Homo sapiens: one gene and its partners. The protein of the gene in region 4 interacts with the protein of the main gene of each other region in a pairwise test. Each region holds a gene or a part of one and is shown on either strand. Other genes may lie near its edges.

The links.
Region 1: the proteins of ERMP1 (region 4) and SLC23A2 interact in a two-hybrid assay, tested with the Homo sapiens proteins (one large-scale study listed by BioGRID).
Region 2: the proteins of ERMP1 (region 4) and SLC18A1 interact in a two-hybrid assay, tested with the Homo sapiens proteins (one large-scale study listed by BioGRID).
Region 3: the proteins of ERMP1 (region 4) and CD200R1 interact in binary tests that used the Homo sapiens proteins (3 or more experiments, as listed by UniProt).

The regions. Positions count from the first base shown.
Region 1 is NC_000020.11:4,851,589-4,855,938, reverse strand, and holds the end of SLC23A2 (solute carrier family 23 member 2), read left to right. Parts: 3' UTR 1-3,581; downstream 3,582-4,350. UniProt on the Homo sapiens protein: Sodium/ascorbate cotransporter. Mediates electrogenic uptake of vitamin C, with a stoichiometry of 2 Na(+) for each ascorbate.
Region 2 is NC_000008.11:20,165,114-20,169,636, reverse strand, and holds part of SLC18A1 (chromaffin granule amine transporter), read left to right. Parts: intron 1-4,523.
Region 3 is NC_000003.12:112,972,025-112,977,180, reverse strand, and holds the start of CD200R1 (cell surface glycoprotein CD200 receptor 1 isoform a precursor), read left to right. Parts: upstream 1-2,077; 5' UTR 2,078-2,323; coding exon 2,324-2,390; intron 2,391-5,156. UniProt on the Homo sapiens protein: Inhibitory receptor for the CD200/OX2 cell surface glycoprotein. Limits inflammation by inhibiting the expression of pro-inflammatory molecules including TNF-alpha, interferons, and inducible nitric oxide synthase (iNOS) in response to selected stimuli.
Region 4 is NC_000009.12:5,783,425-5,788,493, reverse strand, and holds the end of ERMP1 (endoplasmic reticulum metallopeptidase 1), read left to right. Parts: intron 1-900; coding exon 901-1,064; intron 1,065-1,185; coding exon 1,186-1,350; 3' UTR 1,351-3,922; downstream 3,923-5,069. UniProt on the Homo sapiens protein: Within the ovary, required for the organization of somatic cells and oocytes into discrete follicular structures.

The DNA of each region.
Region 1 (4,350 bases), on a different chromosome or scaffold from region 4:
GCTGTGGACACCATCAGGGAAGCTTGTTGTAACGGCTTTTGAAGGCCAGTAACCATTGTTGTGGTTGTGTTTTGTATTGCTTGATACCATGAAAGTGTAAATACTGTAATGCCTAATCTATTTATCAAAACTGACTACTGGACCGGAGCCCAGAAACCATGGGTCAAGTTACACGTGAATTTGTTTTGTGAAGAAGGGAAGCTGGGGCAGGTAACACGCAGAGCCGCCACGTGGAACGGTCTGTCCGCCGGTCTGTCCCGCTTGCCGGGCTTCTGTTGCAAGTCTTGGCTTAAGGAGACTTCCTGTGGGTTGCCATGTCGCACGTCCGTTAGATCTTGATTTTACAGGTGAGGGTGGTTGCCAAAGGTGATAAGAAAAGCAGCCAACAGGCTCCCTCTCACTTAAGAGAGTTCTAATTAATAACACTAAATTCTTCCTGAGAAATGACTCCTCTTGGTTTGGTTTGAAGTTTTTCAGTGAAGGAAAAGGCCTGAGATAGGAAGCAGTGCCCTCGCTTCATGAGGTGGCACATCTTCGGTGGCCGTTGGCCTGGTCGAGCTTTGGTCAGCTGCGTGGGTGCCTGTCTCCTGTCTCCAGCGGCAGGGCATGGTTCTTGGCAGCCTGGTGTCCACACGGTGCATTCCTGTCCCCCTCGGCCCCAGGCTGGCTCAGCTCTCCAGTGCTGCGGCGCTGTCTTTGCAGCATTGCCATGTCACCGTAGCCCCCTTCACTCTTGGAAGTTTGGGGCTTCAAGGTTTATTCTGGCAAGAACACCTCGGAGCCACTGCATTGTTTTGCCAAAAACTTACTGCAGATTAAGTAAAGAACTTAGATGCTAAATTACATCTAATTTTGTATGTTTTTTTAAATGTGTCTTTGATGCATACTTTAGAAGCACACTGGCTCGCGGTTTCCATCCCTCTTGCCTTGGGACACTCTTGAGGCTGGCAGCCCTCCTGCAATGAGTTGCTCTCAGTTCCTTCTGTTTGGATTTTGCTCAACATCTCCAGTTTCTCTGCTCTGAAAAATGGGGAAAACTGCTAAACATCCCAGAGATTTGCAATCTTCTAGCTCTCCAGGTGAGCAGAAAGACCAAATATCCAAATAAAAGCCTGAAAGCCATTGGTGATCCAGGGGCACCTTCTCTTCAGCTTGACTGGGCGTCTTCCGCTGCATAACACTCAAGGTGTCTGCTCTAGTCATCCAGAAACCCACTCCCTTCTGAAGCCCCTCCTTGGGCCGGGTTGTATCAGGAGGATTCAACCCCGCTAACATGTGGGGTGCCCTCTGTAGGCCTTCACACAGGGAAGGAAGCCCTACCCTTTCAACTCCTGTTGGAGTGAGAGTTTCCTGTTCTGATTCCACTGTGGCCAACCCAATAATTCTGTCCGAGGAGGGGTAAGGGAATAGGAGGTGGGGAGCAAAGAGGGCAGCCTGACTAGATGCCCCTGCTGAATCTGGTACTTTCTGCACAGCCTTGAGTGATTGGAGTCCCCTAATGACTAATAAACTTGAACATGTAACACACACACACACACACACACACACCATTTTAGGAAGTGGTTCTCCTACTGGAAAATATGCTACAGAATGAAAGTTTGTAATTGAAAGAAAAAGAATGTATTCATCTGCTTCTTGGGTTTAAGCACACACCTGAAGGGGAGATATTGGGGGACACGGTGGCCACTCGCGGTCTGTGTCATGACACTTCCCATTCACATCATTGGCCTGCGTTGCTGGGGCTTTGAACCACCACCCCGTACTTTGTTTTGCCTGTAGAGTGTTGTAAAATATTTTGGATGTGAATGTCCTTGCAGGCCGGTTAGTCTCCAGTTTCCACAGAGACCACCTACCCACCACCTTCCCAGGTCACCTGCCTGGTCCCTGAAAGAAAGCATTTGTGTGGGCAATCCCAACATGAAATGTAGACAGCGTGAATACGGACAGGAGGTGATGCCATATTCACAGTGGGGGATGGAGGGCCCCCACCCCTGCTTCACAGAATAATGGGAAGTGACTCTAGTCTTTGTAAGCAATTTTCATTCTCATTAGGAAGTTAAATGTAGATTCACAGATACATTTACTTTCAGAATCCTCAAGAGGATTTCAAATGCTAACTTTTAGTTTCTTGGGATTGATCAAGGCAAGAGAAGTGGCTTTAACCATGCCAGCCAGAATGAAGCATCATGGGTCCTGATGGTTTCCCGTTTTCATGGTAACAAATTCGCACAGAGGTTTTGCTTTATGCTGTAGAATACCGACTTTCATGATGACAACTTGGTTTATGCATGAATATTGCAGTATTTCCATATAGCAAAATAACATTTCTACCCAGGATAATAGTCACAGTTTTCCAGGGAGGGAATGATATAATTTTCATGACAATGTCATGTGATGATAGAATTTCTCCATTGATGAATCTCTAGTATGTGTGTATACTTTATTTACCCATACGTATATTTTATGACCATGAGCTAAGTTGTTATTTCTTTCATTCATATCCCTGCTGAAATATTGGTACTAGCAACTTAAAGTTGGCAAGTCTCATCTTCAGTAATACGGATGCCATGGGAGTGGCCAGGCCAGATTGAAGGTGAATATGGAGCAGTAGCAGAAGCCTCATTCCAGAACCCATCTGGCCAGAGAAGCAGCAGCATCCTGGGGGATGGCCGTGCATGGGGTGTACACTCGCTATAGGCATAGGCCCGGCATGGCTGTCGCTGGACGCCAGCTGTGCACACCCAGCCACACCTGCTGCACGCCGCGTTAGTGTGCGGCTCCGGGCCTGAGCATTCGCAAAGCTCGCTTCTCCAGGGAGCCTCCTCTTGGCTTTGGAAAAGAGCCCAGGGACTTAACGTGCTGCCTGTTGTACTCTGTCCCCTCATGACTTTTTAGACACAGGGACTAGGACATCGACCACCCTCTGCCCCTCCTGCAGTCAGAACCCGAGTAGTGCAAGAACGGCCACCCGGTTTTGCCAGCGTTCAGCGTCTGCCCATGGACCCATAAGGCACATTAGCGTTGGGGGTCTCTTTTCAGCAGCCTCACAGACATTCCCGTCCTTTCTGGTTGGTGTTGACTGTGTTTCAGCATCACTCTACCCTCCCATGTCCTTAGCATTGCTGTGCGTGTTTCCAGGCACTTAGGACACCCTTCCCCACGTTGCCATCTTACTGACAGTTCAAATGACTCTCCTTTTTTGTTCGTTAGTAACAATCTTCATTTGACACCTTAATACATTTCTGACTGTTCTTAAAACAGTGGGGATGCCTATATTTTCCTTGAGTTTTTGTGACTGACTTTGGCTATATATACCTTTCTGGGGTTTTGTTTGTTTTTTATTTTTATTTTGATTACCGAGGGTATTTGGGGTGGGGTTGTTTTTTGAGATGTGTAATTCTTTTATGGAGTTTTTAAAAAGAATTTTCATATTGTTTTTCTAACATGGCTTCATTAAACGTTTAAGTATTTTAAAAATATGTAATATTTGGACCAGATGTTGTGAATAATAGTAGAGATAAAGCTATTTTATTCTGTATTTTTAAAACTGTTCCGTACAAATAAAAGCTCTCCTGGACACAGTTTTGCTCTTCACGTGCCTCCTTCTTGGGCTACTCTTTAAGAAAAGAGTCATCCCTCAGAATCTGTAGGGGATTGGTTCCAAGACCTCCTCGGATACCAAAATCCGAGACTACTCAAGTCCCTGATATAAAATGGCATAGTGGGTCAGGCACAGCGGCTCACCCATGTAATCTCAGCACTTTGAGAGGCCAAGGCGGGAGAATTGCTTGAGGCCAGGAGTTCGAGACCAGCCTAGGCAACATAGTGAAACCCGCCCCCCCCGCCCCGCCCCTTCACTAAAAAAAATTAGGCACACATGGTGGTGAACGCCTGTGGTCCCAGCTACTTAGGAGGCTGAGGTGGGAGGATTGCTTGAGCCCAGGAGTTCAAGACTGCGGTGAGCCGTGTTCGCACCACTGGACCCCAGGCGAGGTGACAGAGTAAGACTGTCTCAAAAACATAAAATGGTGTTGTGGATTTTGGTGTAGTGTATGTGTACATGGATATGGTGTAGTGTATAGATTTGGATATAATCTATGCATATCTTCCTGTATTCTTTAAATCATCTCTAGAGGACTTATAATATCAAATACAATATAAAGGCTATGTAATACTTGTTACACTGTATTGTTTCTATATTTGCATTTTTATTGTGTTGTTTTTATTGTTTTTTATTTTCAATCCTCGGTTGAATCCAAGGATACAGAAGCCTCAGGTACAGAAAGCCGATGGTAATTAATTAAAAGTTGTCACCTAGGGGAGGAAATCAACGGATAAGAAATTCAATTC
Region 2 (4,523 bases), on a different chromosome or scaffold from region 4:
AAAGTGCTGGGATTGTAGGCATGAGCCACCGCACCCAGCCCATTCTCTCTCTTTCTAACAAATATACATTATTATTATTATTACTAATGTTTTGAGCCAGTTGACAGTAGATTGATTGTATCGTTCCCTTACCCCTTGATACTTTAGAGCATTTTCCCTAAGAACAGGATTTTTTTTTATGTAATGTCAATGGAGCTATCAAATTCAGGAAATTTAACATGGATATAATACTTTAGTCTAATTTGCCGTGCCTACTCTGATTGTGTCAATTATTCCGATAATGTCTTCCATGGAAGTCTTTTTTTCTCTAATGCAAAGCCCAGTCCATGACTGTGTAAGACATTTATGCATCACACCTCTCTAGCCTCTTTTAATCTGGAAAAGTTCTCAGCCTTTATCTTTCATGACATTGACATTTGTGACAATTATCTATAGGGTATTCCTAAATTTGGTTTGTCTGATGTTTCTTCATGATACCGTAGCCTTCTGAGTTTCATGTCTGGAGGTATTTAATGCCCGTCGCCTCTCAGTGGTGATGTCCATTTTGATCACTGGGTCAAGGTGTTGTCTGGGTCTCTTGTGTAGTAATTACTTCTTCACCTTGTAACTAATATATAACATGTGGGAGATGTTGTAAAGTCATATAAATCTCCTACTCCTCCTTAAATTTCCTTTCTGCCTAGATTTGTTATCCATTGATGATTCTTGACTGACCCAATCTTTACTATAATGTTTACAAAATACTGGTTTTTCTAGTTCACCAATTCATCCAAATCATCAGTTGGCACTTTGCTGTAAGGAATAGCCATTCCTCCAAGGCAGGCGGATCACTTGAGACCAGGAGTTTGAGACCAGCCTGGCCAACATGGCAAAACCCTGTCTCTGCTAAAAGTACAAAAAAATTAGCTGGGCATGGTGGTGCACACCGTAATCCCAGCTACTCAGGAGGCTGAGGCAATAGAATCCCTTGAACCTAGGAGGCGGAGGTTGCAGTAAGCCACTGCACTCCAGCCTGGGTGACAAAGTAAGACTCTGTCTCAAAAAAAATACTCTAAAAAACAAAAAAGCAATAGCCATTCCTTTCTTACTCTCTTTATATGTATATATTTATAAATATTTATACCAAATAGGTATATAATAATTTTATGTACATGTGATTATGTTCACAAAAAACTTAAAAAACATTTATTTATCTGATATTATCAGTGTAGAATCATGGAGTCCTATTTTTGTAGTTCATCACTCTATTTACTTGTTTAATTTTTTTTTGGAGACAGGGCCTCTTTCTGTGACTGAGGCTGGAGTGTAGAGGTGTGATCATGGCTCACTGTAGCCTCCAACTCTTGGGTTCAAGTGACCCTCTTGCCTCAGCTTCTTGAGTAGCTGAGACTACACAGGCATGCCACCACACCCAGCTTAACTTTTTATAGAGACCGGGTCTGCCTGTGTTGCCCAGGCTGGCCTTGAACTCCTGGCCTCCCGTCCTTAATTATTTTGATGCTCAAATTGTCCTAGATTTGACAAGTCAAAGCCCATTAACTTGTTGCTGTGTCATTTTAACATACCTTCATTGTTTTTTGAGTAATGTTTTACTTTTCGATACAAAAATATGTCCTACGTTCATCTTGTACTTTCCCTGCCTCAGCCCTGAATTCATTTCCCCAAGGAGCCCAGGTTCTTGTTAGTAGGGAATGGTGTTTAGAAACCAAACTATGGGGCCGGGCACGGTGGTTCACGCCTGTAATCCCAGCAGTTTGGGAGGCCGAGGCAGGCGGATCATGAGGTCAGGAGATTGAGACCATCCTGGCTAACACAGTGAAATCCCGTCTCTACTAAAAATACAAAAAAATGAGCCAGGCGTGGCGGTGGGTGCCTGTAGTCCCAGCTACTCAGGAGGCTGAGGCAGGAGAATGGCATGAACCCAGGAGGAGGAGCTTGCAGTGAGCCAAGATCATGCCACTGCACTCCAGTCTGGGCTACAGAGCAAGACTCTGTCTCAAAAAAACAAAAAAAACAAAAAAAACAAAAAACTATGGGGACTCAATGTGCTCTTTGCCATTGGGGTCACCTTGTTTCCCTGCCATCTTGATGACAGAGCTAATACACACACACAAGTTTGTACTGAGACCTCCACTTCCAGCCCAACTCCACGGGATTTTTCCCTGCTTGCCCCATTCCATACATGTATTCTTCTTTCAAAGTAAGAAATTTGTCTCCCCCTATTATACAAATAGGTGAAACACCTATTTTACAAATAGATTAAAAAATTTACTTACTTGTATAATTCTATAATACTTACCCATGCCATTATAAAAAACAAAGCTACCAAGAAATATTCAAGACTTTTCAGTTCTTTTTCCCTTAGACTTAATGAATATAGCCAAATACTGTATCTAGAAATTACCGTACTTCCATTAGTTCTTTTTTCCACCTTTAGTGTGATTATGTAATGCATGATACATTTGAAATTCATTTGCATCCATTTGTGGGGTTTTTTTTTTTTGGCATTTAGTTTTAGTTTTTTTTCTCCATTCTGGCTAATTATCTTAGTCTGTTCAAGATGCCAGAACAAAATACTACAGATTGGGTAGCTTAAACAACACATATTTATTTTCTCACGACTCTGGAGGCTGAACGTCCATGGTCAAGGTACTGTTGAGGGTTGGTTTCTGGTGAGGCCTCTCTTCCTGGCTTGCAGACAGCCACCTTCTCAGTGCGTCCTCACATGGCCTTTACTCAGTGTGCATGCACAGAGGAAGAGAGCCCTGATGTCCCTTCCTCTTTTTATAAGGAAAACAGTTTTTCAGATTAGAGCCCCCACTCTTATGACCTCATTTAACCTTAATTACCTCCCTGAAGATACTGTCTCCAAACACAGTCATATTAGGTTAGGACTTCAACATACTAATTTGACTAAGGTGGGGGGACTCCATTCAGCCCATAACACTAATATAATTTATTTTTTTAATATATAGGACATTACCACCTAAAAGTCAAAATTATTCCAAAAGGTGTACTCAGAAAGTGTCAATCCCTCCAGTCTTTCTAACCCTCCCCCTCTCCCACCCCTACCACTCATAGGTAACCAATTTTAATGCCTTCTGGTTTGTCTTTCCTGTGTCTTAGTGTTTTTTCCTCAAAATAAATCGCTTATGTGTTTTCTTATTTTTCCCTTTTCTATTATATGAAAGGCAGCACACTATGTATTCTTTTTTTTGCGTTCTCCTTTTTTTCTCAATAATATGTCCTGAAAATTACTCTACTAGTTCACAGAATCTTTCCTTATTATTTTCCACCTGGTGGTGTATATATATATATATATATATATATATATATATATATATATAGACACACACACACCCACACACAATTTTGTATGTGTACACAATAGTGTGTGCGCCATATTTTATTCCATCTCCTATGTTTAGGTAGTTTTCAGTATTTTATAGTTATAAATAGTGCTGTAATTTGCATGACTGCATGTTTATAATGTTGTCATTAATCTTTAGAGTCAATTCCTAGAAGTGGGACTGTTGGGTCAAAGGGTTTATTGTACTTTTAAATGTATATTTTAATGATTTACATCAGTTTCTTTACTTCGAATAATAATTGGGTAAGCGAATGATCTCTTTAGTTTTAGGATCTCTAAATTTATCAATCCACTATTGTGTGTGTGCAGAGAGGGTTATCATACCAAAATGATCCAATCTATTACAAGATAGAAAGTAGTAAACACCATGAAGGATTAGGACATAGTGTTCAGGATGTCTGGAAGAGAGAGAAGCCCCAGCTACTGAGTCAGGGAGCTCTCTAGAAAAGAAGGAGCCATTTAAGCTTGACTTTAAAGAGTGGGTAGAACATGGAACTATGGAGAAGCTCAGAACGTGTAGTTTAGGCAAAGGCAATAATGATGGCTGAGGCACTGCTGGGATGCTTGGAAAGAGGGTGGGGCGACCAAGTTTAGATGAGAGTGTGTCCTGACGAGAGTGGGTCCTGGATGTTTAGGCTGTATTTTAACCCTGCTTCTTCTACCTTAGTTCAGTGTGGCTCAAAATGATCAGAATGAAGAATTCAGAAAGCTTGAGAGGCTTTCTGAGTTATGGCTTCTGTGCTTGCTTTTGGGATTCGGTGCTCTGCCTGTGGTTCTCCCAGGACAAATATTAGTACCAGGGAGATCTAGTGGAAACCAGGAGTCCAGACATCTATTGTCCAACCCTGACCTTGCTACCAATCCACTCTGACCTTGTTGATGGTCACGTGAACGCAGGAACCATGGCTGGAATATGTTGCTTCTCTATCTGTGACTATTACAGTGCCTACCTTTCACACAGGAGGGGTCCTGCCTCCAGCTTCCTCTGTGGCATCAGACAAGTCACTTTCTCTCCCTGTACTGGGGTTCCTGGTCTCTGCAGTAAAGGAGATACTGTAGATGGTCTCTAAGCCCATAATTGTACTTTCTCAGATTCTGTGAAAATAGGAGAGATGTATGCACTGTACAAATGGACATTTTTTGTTATCCATGT
Region 3 (5,156 bases), on a different chromosome or scaffold from region 4:
TGCTGATTGCAGATTGTGGTCTGACCTCAGGTGAGTGCATTGGAGTGTGTCTATGAAAGTTGTTGCCTGAAATTTCAAAGTAGAGGAGTTGAGTGAAAAGAACACAGGGCTACGAAATATAACACATTTTATTCCCAGCCGTGCCAATAAGTTGTTTTGAGGCCACAGGCCATTTAGCCCTTCTGTGGTTTAGTTTTGGCTATGTCATTGAGCAGATATTAAAATAAATGATCTCCAAGAATTTTTGATGACATGAGAAAAAGCTAATGTCAATATAATATAAACAGATACAGACTTGAGTAAGAAACTTTCCCAGTATCACTGGACTAGTAATTGCACAACAGAGACTTAACCCTATGTCTATCTGTATCCTAAGCGAGTGTGAATTTTAACTTTAACTTCTCTCTGCTCACTGCAACCTCTGCCTCCTGGGTTCAAGCGATTCTCATGCCTCAGCCTCCCAAGTAGCTGGGACTACAGATGAGTGCCATCACACCTGGCTAATTTTTTTTTTTTTTTTTAAGTAGAGATGGAGTTTGGAGTTTTGTCATGTTGCCCAGGCTGGTCTCGAACTCCTGAGCTCAGGCAATCTGCCCGCCTCGGCCTCCCAGTGTCCTAAGATTACAGACATGAGCCACTACTCCCGGCCAACTTTCACTTCTATGTAGTGGAAAACCAGAATATTATCTGTATTTTAAATGATGTATTCTCACTAATTTTCCGACACCTGGTGAAACATTAGACAGAAGAGAAGACATTTTTGTTTTGGTCTTCCCATTGTCACAGCTCATACCCTTAAGTGTTCCATGCCCTCAAGGATCTGGTTTCACTGTCTTCATCAAATTAATTAACTGGAAAAAAAAGCTTGAGAAGGGGAAGGGGGGAAATATTTATAATGTTTGGCAAGAAGGAAGATGAAACTGCTAACTGAGAAAAAAAATGCATGCTGTTTAATCTTTTTCCTGTTTGCAATGTTTTCTTCCCCTTCCTGTACAGTTTTGCCTTGGGGCAGAAAATTCTCAGCACATAGAAGATTTTTCCCTCTCTCAGACATAACTTAAAAGCATAGTAACATAGTAACTAGCAACAGTAAGGAAGAGGTTTTTTTGTTGTTGTTGTTGTTTTTTTTTTTTGGTTAGGGGGAGTCTGAATTCCAGATGTGTGGCAACTAAGAGATGGGTGATTATTTGTAATTTGGTTAAAATGATCAGTCTAATTTTCCAAAGGTGAAACTGAATGGCAATAAGTACTGAGTTCTGATAAACAGAATGCCCTCACCCCCAACAAGGTAGATACCTATGTCCGAATTACCGAAACCTGTGAATGTTACCTTGTGTGGCAAAAAGGACTTTGCAGATGTGATTAAATTAAGATCTTGAAATTAGATCATGTTGGATTATTTGGGTGGACCAAAAATAATCACAAGGTCTTTATAAAAGGGAGGCATAAGGGTCACAGTCAGAGAAGATGTGACAGTGGACCAGAGGTCCGAATGATGTAGCTGCAAGCCAAGAAATGCAGGCATTCTCAAATCGCTGGAAAAGGCAGGGAGCAAATTCTGCCCGAGCCTCCAGATGGAGTGCAGCCCTTCCAACACCTTGATTTTAGTCCCCTAAGATCCATTTCAGACTTCTGATCACCAGAACTGTAAGATAATAAATGTTGTGTTGTGTTAAGCCACTGAGTTTGTGGTAATTTCTTACAGTAGCAATAGGAAACTAATACACATATGATGTTTACAGGGTTGTGTGTTGACTCCCATTATAGACAGGAATTTCACACAATAATTTTCAAGAAAACATATTGTATTCCAGACTCAAATACTAAGGCCGTAAAGCTCTTCAACCTGGAGAAAGCCTCTAAAAGTCATCATAATTGGGAAATTTACAAGGATGGGCCAAAGTAGATCAATATTCTGTTTTACTTTTTGGTGCAAGTTTAGACAAATCTGTTTATCTTGGACACGTTCAATGCCTTACTGTAAAGTTTGTCTGTGTACAGCAGAAGTGAGAGGAGAACCAATGAGCTGAGAGATAATTCAATCAATCTGCTTCCTCCGTCTTTGCTTCAGGGCTTCATACAGGAAATCTATTGCTGTGTCAAGTTCCAGAGAAAAGCTTCTGTTCGTCCAAGTTACTAACCAGGCTAAACCACATAGACGTGAAGGAAGGGGCTAGAAGGAAGGGAGTGCCCCACTGTTGATGGGGTAAGAGGATCCTGTACTGAGAAGTTGACCAGAGAGGGTCTCACCATGCGCACAGTTCCTTCTGTACCTGTGTGGAGGAAAAGTACTGAGTGAAGGGCAGAAAAAGAGAAAACAGAAATGCTCTGCCCTTGGAGAACTGCTAACCTAGGGCTACTGTTGATTTTGACTATCTTCTTAGTGGCCGGTAAGTTTGAATTCTCTTTGGGAGAACAGTGAGAAACCTGGTCTCAGCTCTTCCTGAGTTTATTTTTTGTCTTTCTTCTGGGGCAATACAAATCAATTGCAATAATAAATATAGGGGGTTGCTAAATATGGGTTACTCCCATATCTAGTTTACTTTATTATCCTTTTTTCCGGTGTCTTGCTTGTTGTACTTTGTATCCTACTACAATATACAGATCTCTATAATTTGTCTTACTGTCCATTTCCTTATTTCCTCCTGTTTTTTGAACAAGGCAGGATAAATCAAATACATACTAGCAGCAATCAAAGTCAGTTAGGTTCTCTTTATCTTATTCTCTTCCCCAACCCCCTTTTTTGAGACAGGGTCTTGCTCTGTTGCCCAGGCTGGAGTGCAGTGGTGCAATCGTAGCTCACTGCAGCCTGTAACTCCAGGTCTCAAGCAGTCCTCCCACTCAGCCTCCTGAGTGTCTAGGACTACAGATATGCGCCACTATGCTTGGCTAATTTTTAAAATTTTTGGTAGAGATAGAGTCTTGCTATATTGTCCATGCTGGTCTTGAGCTCCTGTCTTCAAGCAATTCTCCCACCTCAGACTCCCAAAGCATTGGGATTACAGGCATGAGCCACTGCACCCAGCCTCTTCTCTCTTAATTTTTTTTTTTAAGATAAGAACGCTAACTCATTTAGGTCCACATTGCCAGTGGCATAGATTAGGACAGTTTATTGCTTTCTGTCACTTTCGATGATTAGGCACTTCAAAAATATAATATGCCTACAGTTACAGTGGTGCGTCTGTGATGTATGTCTGTATTTATCTTCAAGATGTGTGGGCTGTAAGAGACACTACGAGTTAGAGAACAGACTCTTCAACATCTAGGTTCCTATAGAAGTTATAGAGAACTTGGGCCACTGTGGGGGTGTCCTGGTTTCACTGTAGAAGGTTGGTAGGAGTTGGTGTGGGAGGGAGTTTTCAGGTTTCACTTTTGGTAGACAGAGCAGCTGCAAGGGAAGAGTGTAGTTGGTTTTAAATGTTATAATTTGATAATTGAAAGAAGAAAAGGTATTTTTCCTCATTTCTGAATGACTTTAAAATGCTGCTTATCTTCCACAAAAAATCTTCTTTCCACATGTTAATCTTACTAGTGAACACATGCAAAATAACTACACTCTTTGACTGCACCTTTCTATTGAGAATTTTCACATGCTTTTTTCCCTTTGATCTGCACAGCAACCCAGTGAAGTAGACATGGAAGACACCTCTCCATTTTACAAAGGTAGAAATGGAGGCGTAGAGAGGTGAAATGATTTGGCCAAGGTTAGATATGACTAGTATGTGCCAGAATCACAATCAGTAATGATATACATCAGTAAGCACCACTAAACATTTGAGTGGGCAATTTTCCTCATTATTTAACCATTGTGCTTTTCACTGAAGAGCATCAGTGAAAAAAGTCAAGCCAATACTTAGTTTTAGCCTTAATAGACTGTTACTCACCTAAAAAGTCAAGTGATCTGAATCTTTCAGTAGTTCAGATCTTGTTGTAGAAAGCTCTTATAGCAACTTGTGTAGGACCCAGCTTGGCTGGGGCAGCCAGATAGGCAAGGAGCTGTTTATGTCAAATTGCACTGTTACTCCTGGGAAAAGGAAAAAAAATGATTAAAACATAATTTGTAATTTTCAATTTTAAAGGTTGAAAGGTTTAAATTTTAAAACTATTTCTGAACACAACTAGGAAAGACTACATATAGCAGATCTATGAAGTCTATGCTTATGTTATTGTAAAGTTATTAAATGTTTAAAATCAGGATTTAAAAAAGCATATTACTTTACATGTAGTGATTTGGTGTGATAGGTTAACCATGACATGATTTAGAATAATGAGAAGCATACCACTTGGGGAAATATGACTTTATGTCTTTATTGCTAAAACTGCTATGTTATTAATACTGCCAAACAGAAAGAACTCGCTTTGTACAAGGTAAATTCACAAAGGAACAAGGGAGCTAATGACTTAAATGTAAAACATAGTATTCATTTGGTTTCCCTATTTTCTTTTTGTCTACTTATTTGCTTATAACTTCAAGCAGCTTGGCAGTTAGTAAACAAGATTTATCCAGAAAAAACCTAAGGGGAAAAATAAAAACAACCTAAATTGTGTACATCAGAGCTATATTCCCAGCCTTGTACCTGGTCCCCTTCCCGGACACTCCCCGTACCCTGTGCCACTTCTTCCTCCTTTTTTTTAGCCCTATTGTCTTCTAGATTTTTGTGTGTGTGTTCAAATTATATTTTGGTGTTCCAATTAAAATTATTCCATCTTTTATAAAAGTTACTGATTTTGTGATTATGAGTTACTAAAAAGGAACCCTTCACTTCTTTCCTTCTTTGGGCTAATTTTTATTCATTTATTGTTGTCTTCCACTAGAGGACAGGCAGTAACAAGAAGAGGAGATAAAAATCAAGACAGGGCTCTAAGGTAGCTTTGGCAGATTTGCAAACAGTGGAAAAAGATTCAAAACAATTGTGCAAAAGAAGGGTTTTGTCCTTATTAATAACTTTAGTCCTATCTTCCTTTTCTAGTTTGCATATTTGTGAATTTACATGTTATAATAATTTATAGGTGTGTTTTTCTCTAAATGTTCATGCTTAAGCAATTAATAAATTAATTAAAAGTCCTTATTAATGTCTGTGTGTGTGTGTAGAATAGTGCCTAAAAGTTATTAGTAATCTAAATTAGAAAGACAAAGGTAAGATGAAACAATTGGT
Region 4 (5,069 bases):
GCAGGACCCTGAATTTTCTTTTGCTTCTTTTCATCTTCACCACCCAAATGCCAAAGGATTCCTCTTCCTTCTTTTTTATTTTTCCCTGAGAAGCTTTGGTTTTGAAGACTGTTACTTCAATAATATACTTTTAAGTCCCTGCCCTGTAAACCTTTCTTTGACTGGACACTATAGTAGTATTTTCAGATTTAGGGTGGACTGACTTGGTCTGCATTTGCCACAAAGCCTTGCAGCAGAAGCAGGGTGGGCACAAGTGTGTGAGATTGCTCCCTGAGATTTAAAAATTTACGGTTATTTCAAATGTGGGTATTCTCTGTCTTTAAGTTAGGCTGAGGGTGTGTTTTTGTTTAGTTTTATCTATTTTAGTTTTAGTTTGACTTCCACTGTCATCAGTTTCCTTGGAAGTTCCCAGTGATGACTAAATTTTCAGAACTGAGCTAATATTTTCCAGCTTGAAGGGAAAAACTAGTAAAACATATTTTAAGGTGTTACATGATCAACTCTGAAAATTACAACTCCATTCATAATGGCAGTCCTATTCAGTACTGTTACAGCACTTCGCAGTTTTGCCAACACTTTCATATGCTTTTTCTAATATAATCCCCTCAATGAAGAAATTGTGACATAGATTAAATTCCTGATGTCATGCAGCAGTTAAGTGATAGGACCAACTTAACACAGGCTTTCTCATTTACAGTCTGTGCCTTTTCTCCTGTACCTCATTATTTAACCTTGTTGATTCACACTAAGTGTCCAAACTGGTAAACCTCCATTAGGTTTATAGTAAGTATATTTAAAGTCATGCAGGCATGAACCTTTATGAAGTCTGGTTTGGATTGTGGGTTATTTTTTTGATCCTTTTAAAAAGATTAACTGTTCTTTCTTCCTTTTACCTTACAGGACCAAGCCATATGTCCTTCTATGTTCGAGCCCACAAAGGGTCAACACTTTCTCAGTGGTCTCTTGGCAATGGCACCCCAGTCACAAGTAAAGGAGGAGACTACTTTGTCTTTTACTCCCATGGACTCCAGGCCTCTGCATGGCAGTTCTGGATAGAAGTGCAGGTGCCAATTTCCCAGCATTGTTTGTTTCATTGATTAGGTTCCCAGGTGGTATTTAGCAAGAACCTTGGGTTCAGTATTCTGGCTTCTGAGAACTGGAGAACTAATTGATTTTCTCTGGCAGGTTTCAGAAGAACATCCTGAAGGAATGGTCACCGTGGCCATTGCTGCCCACTATCTGTCTGGGGAAGACAAGAGATCCCCTCAACTGGATGCTCTGAAGGAAAAGTTCCCAGATTGGACATTTCCCTCTGCCTGGGTGTGCACCTACGATCTCTTTGTATTTTAATCTTGTGGATGAGCTCTAAGTACATGCCCAGTGGATACTCCATGTGACATGGTTTCTCCCTATGTTACGTGGATGTTTGTAACGTAAGTCAATGAATTTTAATGATCATATGTTCAAAGAGCTTTCTGGGTTAACGCTTTTCAGGGCCAAGCACTATAAGGGTTTAGCTGTGGCGCAGTGATGCATGGCCTGTTGACACTTGAAAATGCCAGTCTTTTGGCACTTCAGCACATGTGGGTACTGCCACTACACACACGTCATTTTATATGACCTTAAGGACAAAGCCAACAATCCACTTCAATAGCTGCCCCTTTAGGATCAAGAAAGATGTACACTGTCAGAGCATTGTTAATGAGACAAAAGTTGTTTCCAATTTAAGCCCCAAAACCATTTGTTGTATTAGTGGATGGTGGGTAAAATATCATTCACTGAGGTAATGATTCCCCTTGAGAATATAACTCTGTGTAGGTCACTGGAAAGTGATTGCCATAGGGCTGGGAGAGAAGCATTGCACTCTTGAGGCTGTAGCCTGTGTCAAGCTGTTTCTTCAGGCAGCCTCTCAAATGTGCTTTGTCTCTCTGTGCTGAGGCCTGGACCCTGTGCTGAGCTGGTGACTCACTGTCCTGACAAGTGGACACACAGATGCACTGCTGTGCTGCTTTCCTGAGGTGGTTTTCTATGCCTGTTTTCCTCTGAAACATGTCTGTTACCCCTCTCCATCTTACCAAGTTGAAAAGGGGAATATTTGGCCACATACCCCTCTGGTTTTCGTAGGTTCTTTTGGTTCAGAATATTGTTTGTGCCAGTACATGACCTTAACTTCCTTCCTCAGAGCACTGAGCTGCCATCTGGGCTATTCTGGGGTAGAAGGAAGGCTGGGAGTGGTGGGAATTTTATAAATATTTATTCTCTTTTCTTTGTTTCATAGGAGTCTTGTGTTATACAAGGTTAGTCCTTCATGGTATAATCTTACTGATGCACTGGGCCTATCTTTTTGTTTTCCAGCCAGTTGAATAGATTAGTTTTTCTCAGTAACTTACTATCCAGCAGACTGGCTTTCCTGAGACTTGAGGTTGTGGCTTATACTGGAATGAGACCACTGTACGTGTAGGTGGTTCAGATCCTGCGTAATGGCAGCATGAGGACTTAAAAGGTGGTTTTCATTTTGAAGATGGCTATGTAGCTTGTAAGGTGTATCACAGCAGTACCTCTCATGGCTTTTTGGTTCCAGCAGTGAGGGCATTGGTGAGATCAATGGTAAACTGTGCAAGCTTTCTTTTTATCATTAGGAAATGTGAAACGTTGGACAAATTTTGAGTTTTAACAAGGACAAAAAGTTGAAAGAAAAGGCACAGTTAACAAAAAAGGGTGGCTAGATTTATCTTGGGTGATGGAGGAAATGAGAGAGGAATGCTCTTGAAAGGTGGTCTGTGGATCTGTCTGAATAGAAAGAGCACAGTAAGTATGCATTGCCGGAGAAAACGTCCTTGAAGCTGCTTGTCTCATGTGTATGATGTGCTTTTTAAATCATGCCCCTCGTTGCCTGCCTAATCTGTGACTCCCTAAAAACTAACTGGGCCCATGTAGATGGGGCTGCAACCAGAGCTGAATAACATGTTAGGCTCACACATGCATCAGCACTGCACACTGGAATCATTGCTCTTCCTGGACTTTGTAGAAATCAGTCTCAAGTGCTTCAAGAGTCTGGCTCCTGCTACTTTTATCTGTCAGGTAGCACATAAGGTTTGCAGGGTTTATATTTTGTATAGAATCACAGTTGTGGAGAAAAAGTAATAATTTCTCAATGAATTTTAAAAATGGGCCTATTTTCTATCCCCGTGGTTCATCTGATATAATTAGTGTTCCCTGTGAATTCCCCCCCTCTATGGGAAGGATGCCTTTACTCTTTATCAGTAATAAATTATGACTGTTTTCATATTGCCTTAGGGTTATTTCCCTGTGTAAACCATTGTCTTTTGTTTTGGTTTTCTTTAGCATTATGAAGCTTTGGTATTGTACAAGGTCAGTAGTAAGATGCTCACTAGTCTCAGGGCTTGTGTAATATTCTGGGAGGTCATTTAAATGCCAGAAATGGTCAAGCAATTATACACAGTATTTATGACTCTGTTAAGCATACCGTTTGTCTGTCACATTAGTAGATTCTGAGATTAAAAAAAATTTTTAAAGAGTGATCATTTAAATAATTTCTAAAAGGGTCTTTTCAAGCTCTAACAAAGTCACTAACAAATGCATTATTTTCTACAGAATTAGATGTTAGTAGTACAGTACTGCATATTCAGGGAAAAAGTGTGAGGAATTGATTTCAAAATAGTTCGTTCTTGTGTTTGACCTAAGAATGATTGTCGCATGAAGTGTTTGTTTTTACAGTTTAGCATATATAAACAAACATGATAGGATTCCTTAAGATGTTACCACCCAGGGGGCCACAAGCCAGCCTGCTGTCTCAGGAAGCTGTAGAAGGAGTGTTTGTCAATTTCTTGTCACTGGTTTGCTGACTTACTGAGGATTAATTGTTGCCTTACAATGTTACTGAAATAAACTGTTTAATATACTGGTTGGTATCTTTTTAACTGAAAAACAGATCTGTGTTCTTCTGTATCCCCATATTTTCAAGGGTTATTCCATGTCCACAGAGCCTTTTAATTGCTGTTAAAAGACCTAGATGGCTCATGTGAGCAAAGAACTCAACATGGAAATGTTTACTTCAGTTAGAATCCTTTATCTTAGAATGAAATGGTACTTCTGAATTTCACAGAAATTATTAGGTAAATGTTGAGCTTCACCTATGTAGGAGTTTTAAATCATCCCCATTAGCAAAAAAATAGCAAAGGGTAAAGGGCGTTCTTTTATTTGGGAGTAAGGGTAGGAGGGAGGGAAGAAGTTGCCTTTCAGCCAGAGTGACTCATTGCTTATTCTAATCTCCACAGAAGGAAAGGGCACCACCACTCACCAAAATAGAGCATGAACTTTGAGTTCAGAGATCTCTGTGCAAGTTATTTAAACTTTGAGTGAATTCTCTCAGAACAGTTCAATGCAAGGTGAAGCAGCTGAACAACTTCTAACCTAATACTCCTCTTCTTCTTTTAGGGCCAATAAAGTCAAGATGCAGTTATGGCTATTTACATTTGTTTTTAGCCAAGATGCAGTTACGACTCTTTTTAAATTTTTTAAAATTATACTTTAAGTTCTGGGGTACATGTGTGGAATGTACAGGTTTGTTACATATGTATACATGTGCCATGGCAGTTTGCTGCACCCATCAACCTGTCATCTACATTAGGTATTTCTCCTAATGCTGTCCCTCCCCTAGCCCCCCACCCTCTGACAGGCTCTGGTGTGTGATGTTCCCCTCCCTGTGTCCATGTGTTCTCATTGTTCAACTCCCACTTATGAGTGAGAACATGCGGTGTTTGGCTTTCTGTTCTTGTGTTAGTTTGCTGAGAATGATGGCTTCCAGCTTCATCCATGTCCCTGCAAAGGACAGGAACTCAACCATTTTTAGGGCTGCATAGTATTCCATGGTGCATACGTGCCACATTTTCTTTATCCAGTCTATCATTGATGATGGGCATTTGGGTTGGTTCTGAGTCTTTGCTATCGTGAACAGTGCTGCAGTAAACATACATGTGCATGTGTCTTTATAGTGGAATGATTTATAGTCCTTTGGGTATATATCCAGTAATGGGATGGCTGGGTCA